3 separate regions of the Homo sapiens genome follow, and all the other regions are reported to be linked to region 1. The links are microRNA targets in miRTarBase. Many come from high-throughput screens and were not tested one by one. Region 1 holds a microRNA gene; each other region holds the end of a gene's coding sequence.

Region 1 (3,364 bases):
GGATCAGGGCCGAGGCTCAGCATGCCAGTGTGTGGAGTTAGGTGACAGATTCTGCCCTACCTCTCCTCTCCTACCCAGTATCTAGCTACACCCCAACTTTGCATGCGGTCACATTACTGGGAGTGACAGTAGCCCCGCTAAGGGTGAAACAAAATGGTACCATAGTGGAGGAGGGAGCCCGGTCAGCAGGCTTGAAGGAAAGAGGGCAGTGTTTATAGAGGTGATGAAATGCTGTGCTCAGCTTGGTCTCATTTGCGTGTCTTTTTGAGACTTTAGGGCCTTGGGAAGAAGGAGACTAGGAAAAAAAGACTGAACTGTATTATCAGTGCAGGGAGCAGGCAGCCCTGTTGTGGGATTCCCCTCTTCTCCTTTGCATGGAGAGGGACTTGAGAAGGGGAAGTCACTTGCCTATCCAGAGAGAAGGAAATACCCAGGTCATAACAAGCCTGCCTCATCTTGTGGGTGGTATAAGCAGGGCAGCAGCCATGGGGTGACAGAAAAGGCAAGTAGTAACAGAACTTGAGACACAGCAGGGTGAGCAGGTACCTAAAGGAGTGCTGCCGGCATGGCATCCTCTGAGAGCAAGTCCACCTAGGGTGGACTGGGCCAAGGGAAGATGCCTCACTAGGCTGGTATCATCAATTTTGTGTGGGTTAAGCCATTTGTCCTCCACCTCCCACTTTTGGGAGAATGAGAGAAGACGCTCCAGAGAATGAGAGAAGACGCAAGGGCTCAGATTTGCATTTGATGGTGGGAAACTTAACCCTATAGATTTAGGGAGTAACTGTTAGTGACCTAACCTAGGACTACTGGCGGGGCCGGGCAAGGTGATTCACGCCTGTAATACCAGCATTTCGGGAGGCTGAGGCGGGCGGATCACGAGGTCAAGAGATCGAGACCATTCTGGCTAACATGGTGAAACCCCGTCTCTACTAAAAAATACAAAATTTAGCTGTGCCTGTAGTCCCAGCTACTCAAGAGGCTGAGGCAGGAGAATCACTTGAACCCGGGAGGTGGGGGTTGCAGTGAGCTAAGATTGTGCCAGAAACTATTGGGGGATAGGTAGGTGTGGCAACCGTTTAATTTTTGACCAAACTGGGACATGATTTCATATTTACATTGGGCTGGACCTGGCAAGCCAGGATGTAGGCTCACCCTACATATGGGGAATATGCAAGTCATATATACACATTTAAAAATACGGGGAGCTACTTTTACATCTTAAATACCGCCTTGTCAAGACCCTCAACTATGTTCATACTATGACATTTTTGTTTTGTTCTCCATTTTTAAAAAAGGGTATAGTAGTCCTTATTATGACTATGTTGCCATACTAAATGTTTTACTAAGAATATCGTTAATGGCTAAGTGTTTCACCTTCTAAATGTACCAGTTTTCTTTCATTTTTTTCTTTTCTTTTCTTTTTTTTTTTTTTTTGAGACAGTCTTGCTCTGTCGCCCAGGCTGGAGTGCAGTGGCGCAATCTCGGCTTAGTTTTCTTTATTAATTGCATACAATTACTAATCTAGATTTCTTTCCAGCTATTTGTTATTATAAGTGATAGCAAAGTACATCTTTACGCGTCAGTATTTCCATAGTTAAATTCTTAGTCAGATTTGTATAATTCTTGATACATATTGCTAAACTCTAGGTATCTATTTTAAATCTGAGTTTCCACATTGGAAAACTGACAGTTGAGTTTCATTGATTTCTGAAATACGGTAAAATAAGTGGCTTTTAAAAAGTCGCTGAATAGTTTTACCGCTTAGTATGTCTCTTGTGACCTTGCCTTGCAAAGGGGTAATATAGCAAAGTAACAACTTGAATGAAGAGAACAGTTTTATTGCTAGTGCAGCATTTGCCACATTGCCATAAGGTGAATGTCCTGCAGAGAGACTGAATCATACTGAATTTAATTGTGGTGGGTGTGTGGGGTTTAGGCATACAAATACTTGACTCTGAAAATTGACAGTTTGGCACAGTATGGTTGAAAGATCATGTATTGGGCGTGTTGAACTACGTTGAGTTTTCATGAGGAGCAAGACTCTATGTCTTTGAAGTTGTGTAGTGTCATGGAGTGCTGGTGGCATTTTCCACATGGCATATGCGTTTTATTATCAGCATGAAATTAATACATTTTCAGGAGTGGGTTCTTCCGGTATGAGTCATTTACTAGTTAGAGAATACTTTGTGGAAACAGTTGTCAGCAGAAAGAGTCGTCTTAACATCAGCAAGAACTAAAGCTGAGAAATCTGCTTTGTGAGAACTGTGTACATCGCTGGGTCAAATGACCTGAAGGTGTTTTGTAAAGCCCTGTGTGGTAATCGGTTCAGTCACTGCTAATATCTAAATGCAGCATGCCAGTCCTGAGATGCAGGGACTGGCATGCTGCATTTATATATTAGCAGTCTGAGATGCCCAGTACTGACTGTGGTACAACTTGTTCTGAGGGGTCAGACCAGTTTGCAAACAGGAAAGAAGAGACTTCTGGAAAATTTATGTGTGTAAAGACTTCCTGGTTAGTTTGACAGCATTCCTGAGTTATTCACAGCTCAGCTAGTCTCTAAAGACTCCAAAGACCCAGGAAAAATTTTCATATATATATAAAAACAACATAAAATATATATAACATATATTACGTATTATATATAATATATAAATTATATAATATATAAAATTATATATTATATAAATTATATATAATATATTAAATTATATATTATATAAATTATATATATTATATAAATTATATACTATATGTTAAATTATATATATAAATTATATACTATATGTTAAATTATATATATTATATAAATTATGTGTTAAATTATATATTATGTAAATTATATGTTAAATTATATATTATATAATTTATATAACACACATTAAATTATATATTGTATAATTTATATAACACATTAAATTATATATTGTATAATTTATATAACACATTAAATTATGTATTGTATAATTTATATAACACACATTAAATTATGTATTGTATAATTTATATAACACACATTAAATTATGTATTGTATAATTTATATAACACACATTAAATTATGTATTGTATAATTTATATAGCACACATTAAATTATGTATTGTATAATTTATATAGCACACATTAAATTATGTATTGTATAATTTATATAGCACACATTAAATTATGTATTGTATAATTTATATAGCACACATTAAATTATGTATTGTATAATTTATATAGCACACATTAAATTATGTATTGTATAATTTATAGAACACACATTAAATTATGTATTGTATAATTTATAGAACACACATTAAATTGTGTATTGTATAATTTATAGAACACATTAAATTGTGTATTGTATAATTTATAGAACA
Region 2 (3,000 bases), not on the chromosome of region 1:
TAATTGTGAATTTAAGGAAGATTGTCTCCTAAATTGCTTTAAACAGTTTGACTTTATGAACTGATAGTGAGCTTTTTACAGAGAAACTGGTGTATTCACTCACTATTAAATGTGTGGTTTAATTTGAGTGGTTCAAATGCATTCTATTATATATAATATCCTTATATTGGATTTTTTCCCCCTCCAATTAGGTGCATAAAAAGGATAAAAAATACAAATGTATGGTGTGTAAGAAGATCTTCATGTTAGCAGCCAGTGTTGGAATAAGACATGGATCTCGACGTTATGGTGTTTGTGTAGACTGTGCAGATAAATCACAGCCAGGAGGGCAAGAAGGTGTAGATCAGGGACAGGATACAGAATTCCCTCGGGATGAAGAATACGAGGAGAATGAAGTAGGAGAAGCTGATGAAGAGCTAGTTGATGATGGAGAAGATCAGAATGATCCCTCTCGATGGGATGAATCAGGAGAAGTTTGTATGTCTCTAGATGATTAACTGACCTACTATACTCCTCAAGGATGCTGCATTTGGACCTAATATGAATCGACAATTTGGATTGTTGAACTTGAAGGCTTGCAAAATATGGTACATGCTGGATAGTAGTTATGTTGCTGTGAAAACTGTAGGGTCAAAGCCTTATAGCAAAAAAAATTTTTTTTTATATTTGCACAGGACTATACAGCAAACAACCATGTGGTTGGATTACATGGAGTCCCCACATACTCAGTCAGTTATCAAAGTAAAATATTTTTTATTTATAGGATATACAGTAACTATTTGGGTCCTATGAAAATAGTCCTTAAAGAGCTTACATTCATGTGCTACTTTAACATGAATGGAGAAAATCCGTTTATGGAAGTACAGTGACAATTGACCCAATCACTCTGTCCATCAAACCACTCAGGCTAGTTTGTACTAGTAGAGTTTTGTTTCTATTTTTATTTTTATTAATTTTATTTTTTTTAATACAGATTTTCAGTGAGGGGCTTTTTCAACCCCATTGGTTCTATTTTCTTGTATTTTTCCATTTAATTTGCTTCATAACTTAAACCAAGTCTCTTCTAGTCTTAGGTATTATTTCTCGATTTTGTGCTGATGGGCATGTTTATAAGAACTGGAGAGGTAATTTATTGGAATGAACTAACTGACTTCCTCCATTCCCCTCTTCCTTTTTGACATGAATTTTACTACTTCACAAATGAAGAATGATGTTATGAAGTTACCGTGGCGAAGTTGACAAATACCACTAAAATGATTATGATTTAGAAGTAACTTTCTTCTGCTGCTCTAATCTGATAAATGGTTACTATATGATATTTTCTGACATGGTATTTGGTTTTGGGTATCTGTTACTTTGGCACTATTCTTGTTTGCCTCTTTATTTTTGCCAGTGTACTATACCTCAGTCCTATTTGAAAGACCTAATTGAAAGAAAAATCATAGAAATAAGTAAAATGATTTGTTTTATAATTTATCCACCATGTCCAGTTTGGTTAGCTTGTTATGCAATATAAGTGAAATATCAGGTTTTTACCCGTGTCCCTTTTATCATGAAAATTAACACAAAATGTGCATTCTCTTTTGTTTCATACTTAGCGGGATATTGATTGTTTTGAAATTATGATCAATACTTAATTTATTTTTTTCTGTCCTTGAAGTCACTACACCTTGATACAGTCTTTCTAGTAGTCACCATGATTCAACAGTCTCAAAAATCTTACAAATAAAATTCTGAGAAGCTTTATTATTCTATAAATTCTTCAGGGTACAAAGGGTGACATATTGAGGTGAAATTGTCAGATTTACTTAGCCTGGTGACATGAATTAGCTGATTGTGGAACTCTCAGCAGCATTTCACGTATTGTTAACATGTATGGCATTTATTAGCATATTGTATATTATATAAGATTGAGGGATGTCATATTTTCAGCTTTCTTTTAAATAAAAATTGAGTATATTTTCCTATTTTATATCAGGTAACTAAATTATGCTAGTTATGTGGAAAAAATTGCAAAGATGCTTTGACAGATATAATCCCTTTGGTGCTCCATCTGATCAAAGTTGAAAAGTTGATGTTTTTTAAGAGACAAGCTTTATCATTGTCTCTGATTTCAGTAGAATAATGGTTTATTGTTAGACAATGATGTTTCTGCTTGGATAAATCAAAGATAAATTACAGTTACATGGTTAGATGCATCTTTTGTCATCTATATTGTAGTTTCTACATAACTGTAAACCTGACAGATAAGAATAGTTTCGGTTTGATTTTTGTTTAAAACAGATGAGTACTTCTTAATGTTCTAGACAAATGAGTAAAATGTATTTCTGGTAGAAATTAGTTGGGCAAAGATACTATGAATGAAAAAGTATTTTAAACGTAAAATGTTCTTTGTGAATATGTAAGTATAGTATAAAGATTTCTTTCATCCCATTTATCCCCTTCCTTTAAATAAACTAGTTTACAATTGGTAGATCTGTCTATATATAAATATATATTAAAGAACAAAGATATATATCTAAAAATCACCTAAATCTGCTTTATTAGACTACAGTTCACTTATTGCATAGAAACTGGACTTGGCTTTACATTCTTAATGTACTTTTACTTTTCCTCAAGATATGAACTTACTCTCTTGAAGCTGAATTTTCTTTTACTACTTAAATCATTTATGTATATCTGGTAAATTATGACCAAATTTTTGTTAGATTGCATACAGTAAATTGAAATACACACTTGGTACACTACGGGATTGTTGTGCTTTTGTTTGGTTTTAGTTGGAAATAAGGTTTGATGTAGATGGCTTGTTACTGTTAATTTAAAATATTCTATAATTGTCCATTACTTTATGTTGTGTTGTGACAGATTTGGCTATATTTTTAGTCAATTGAAATATGATACTTTAAAAGTTTGTTTTTAGGTAATCCAAAGGAAAAGTGTTTATACTCTTGAATATATTAGCCTCAGCCTATATAAAAATTTCTTTGAAGTAAACATTTT
Region 3 (3,000 bases), not on the chromosome of region 1:
AGCTTTGTTCAAGAATGAGTTTTTTCTGAAATATAAACATTTGATTTAAAAAAACTGAAGTGAGAACATTTAAAATTGGTGTGTTTTACCATAACTTGGTAGGGAAGAGTAAGTTAATATTGGGATGCTTACATTATGCCTGAGATCTCTTTTTACTCTTACAGGAAACTGAGAAGAGGGGACCCTTTTACAGATTTGTGTTTTTTGAATTCTCCTATTTTCAAGCAGAAAAAGGATTTGAGACGTTCTAAAAAAAGTATGAAACAAATACAATGAAGGTTTTGTTGGATATTGTTTAAATTCAATCTACACCTCTTTCTGTTGCTTCAGGAGAGGATCTGTAAGAGTACACAAACAGAGTGAGCCATTGCCATAGAATATTCTCTTGACAGGACCCTAGCTCATAAACATTTCTTCAGAACTATACTTCAAATGGGATGCTTTGTATTAAAACTTTAATAAATTTAATTTATTTTTTCTTTTGAATATAAATAACTGAGCTTAAGCATTATCATCATATCGATTTCTTATGCTGCCTAAACCTCTTAATTTTAGTCGAAATATATCTTTTTTTTTTTTTGGAGGCGGAATTTCATTCTTGTTGCCCAGGCTGGAGTGCAATGGCACGATCTCAGCTTACCGCAACCTCCGCCTCCCAGGTTCAAGCGATTCTCCTGCCTCAGACTCCCGAGTAGCTGGGACTACAGGCATGTGCCACTACGCCCGGCTAATTTTGTATTTTTAGTAGAGACAGGGTTTCTCCATGTTGGTCAGGTTGCTCTCAAACTCCCAACCTCAGGTGATCTGCCCACCTCGGCCTCCCAAAGTGCTGGGATTACTGAGCCACTGTGCCCAGCCCAAAATGTATCTTATACAAACATTGTAGAAATGAATAATGATTACTCAAATAAGATCTTTTAATTATAAGCTTCTGGCATCTCTATTTTTCCCTTAAGTAGGGGATACTAAAGTGAATGATTTTCTAAGAGGATCTTTTGAAACTCTTTAGTACAATATTTGAGTAAAATAAATTATTGTGGATCTTTTGAAACTCTGTGTAGTATTCGAGTAAAATAAATATTTGACATTTACAGTAGGGTACACCCTAAGTTGTTTATGAATTCCTTATACCACTGTTATATTTAATTTTTCAGATAAAATATGTATGGGAAAATGACTAGAGAAATTGATTCTTTTTTAGGCTCAGGGACAAGATAAGTGACTAATTGTGAACCCCAAGCTCTAATTGTATGTTCAGAGTGATGTCTCCATAAAATTACAAATGTCATGTACTTTCAGGGTAGCTCCTTATTTAGTCAGAAATCTCAGAGATTAAATGTGTGAATATTTAGGGTTTTTGCATATTTTTGACCAACCAATGAAAGCGAATTAGTTCAGTTTAGAAAGTTTGATGTCTATACTTGTATATACCTCTTTAAATTTTAGAACTTTGTAGGTTATTCATTTTTAAAGAGCAATAAAGTTTGTATAAGATAGTGATTGCTTTCCTTCTATTCTTTAAATATCAAAAATAGAGTATCTCTCTGTCTTCACTATTCTCATCCTTGGACATTTCCTCTCCCCTCCCCTTGGTATTCTCTTTTTTGAGGGGGGGGTGTTCTAGGTGAGTTAATCCTTAGTATTTTCAGTAGTCATTGCTATAAAACTCTCAGCTTCCCCTCCATACTTTCAACCTAACACTTCTCTCTCCCAACTTATCTCTGTGTAATCTCCCAGTTCATGATTAACAAATTATAATTTTATTGAGGGACTGTTCTAATCCTGATATCTCAGATTTTCTTGGCTGTTATCTCCCTATCTTTCTGTATTCTATGTCAGTCAGAGCCAAAATCCTTTTCATCATCCCAAATTTTTCTATCCGCCACATCACTGATTCATACACCCTAGTCTTCCATCACAGTCTCTTAATTTTTAAGTTTTTTTTTTCTTACTACTCCCTTCATACTTATTCTTTAATTTCATGGAAACACTAGAGTAGCTATCTTAAACTAAGACTACAGACCATTAAAAAGTCAGTTTCTCAGCCAGGCACGAGAAACTACTAACACCTGTAATCCCAGCACTTTGGGAGGCCAAGGCGGGCAGATCACGAGAGGTCAAGGAGATCGAGACCATCCTGGCTAATACGGTGAAACCCCGTCTCTACTAAAAATAGAAAAAATTAGCCAGGCGCCTGTAGTCCCAGCTACTTGGGAGGCTGAGGCAGGAGAACGGCGTGAACCCGGGAGGCGGAGCTTGCAGTGAGCCGAGATGGTGCCACTGCACTCCAGCCTGGGTGACAGAGCGAGACTCCATCTCAAAAAAAAAAAAAAAACAGTTTCTCAGTCCATGTAACCACCTTTCAAATGATCAGTAGCCATATGTGGCTAGTGGTTACCATATTAGACAATTGAGGAAATATTGAACATTTCCATCATCACAGAAAGTACAGTTGGACTATGGGCCAAATCTAGCACACCACCTGCTTCTGGATGGTCTTCAACCTAAGAATAGTTTTTACGTTTTTAAATAGTTGAAAAAAAAAAAAAAAAGCAAACATTTGAAATCAATTTTAATGATAGAAGCACTAACTTTGAACTCCAGTAAAGTACCTACATTATATTCTTGAGTTTGCCTCTTGGCCTACAATCCTAAAATATTTACTTTCTGGTCTTTACCAAAAAAGTTTGCCAACTCCTGCTCTAGACCATTGAGTACTTTACTTTTGCCTTAAAGATCATTCTGGTCTGACACTCTGATCTAGCTTTGATCCTTACCTTCCCTTCATCCCCAAAGTCAATCATTATCCTAAAATCAGTGTTGAATTGTTTGTATTTTTAGTGTTCCTATAGTCTTGCTGTCATATTTGTTCATAGGCTTTTAAGTATTGTTTTATATCTTAACATTTTATAGGAATATTGTACACATCATTTTACAACTGACTTTTAACTCAATATTGTTTTTGAGATTTATCCGTGTTGGCAGATGTAGATTATTTTC

The links. The annotated mature microRNA hsa-miR-4799-5p reads AUCUAAAUGCAGCAUGCCAGUC and lies in region 1 at 2,344-2,365, shown strand. An mRNA with a match to its seed (bases 2 to 7 or 8) in the 3' UTR can be bound and repressed. Matches are read on the target gene's strand: a 7mer-m8 pairs with bases 2 to 8, a 7mer-A1 pairs with bases 2 to 7 and ends in A, and an 8mer does both.
Region 2: the mRNA of ZBTB10 is a reported target of hsa-miR-4799-5p. Seed matches in the 3' UTR shown: 8mer at 1,263-1,270.
Region 3: miRTarBase lists SGO1 as a target of hsa-miR-4799-5p. Seed matches in the 3' UTR shown: 7mer-A1 at 1,399-1,405 and 7mer-A1 at 1,442-1,448.

Annotation. Positions count from the first base shown.
Region 1 is chr4:147,780,261-147,783,624 of GRCh38, forward strand. MIR4799 (microRNA 4799) reads left to right here and starts at 2,335; the gene lies at 2,335-2,408. The region is part of intron 1 of ARHGAP10 (Rho GTPase activating protein 10); the gene reads left to right. RefSeq lists enhancers at 169-308, 639-688.
Region 2 is chr8:80,519,032-80,522,031 of GRCh38, forward strand. ZBTB10 (zinc finger and BTB domain containing 10) reads left to right here. Exons shown (of 6, transcript NM_001105539.3): 6 at 192-3,000. The coding sequence ends at 497. Among named protein-coding and RNA genes, the nearest start is that of LINC02986, 19 kb to the right of the region's middle.
Region 3 is chr3:20,167,980-20,170,979 of GRCh38, reverse strand. It overlaps SGO1 (shugoshin 1), which reads left to right. Exons shown (of 8, transcript NM_001199251.3): 8 at 165-1,496. The coding sequence ends at 276. Among named protein-coding and RNA genes, the nearest start is that of SGO1-AS1, 4.8 kb to the left of the region's middle.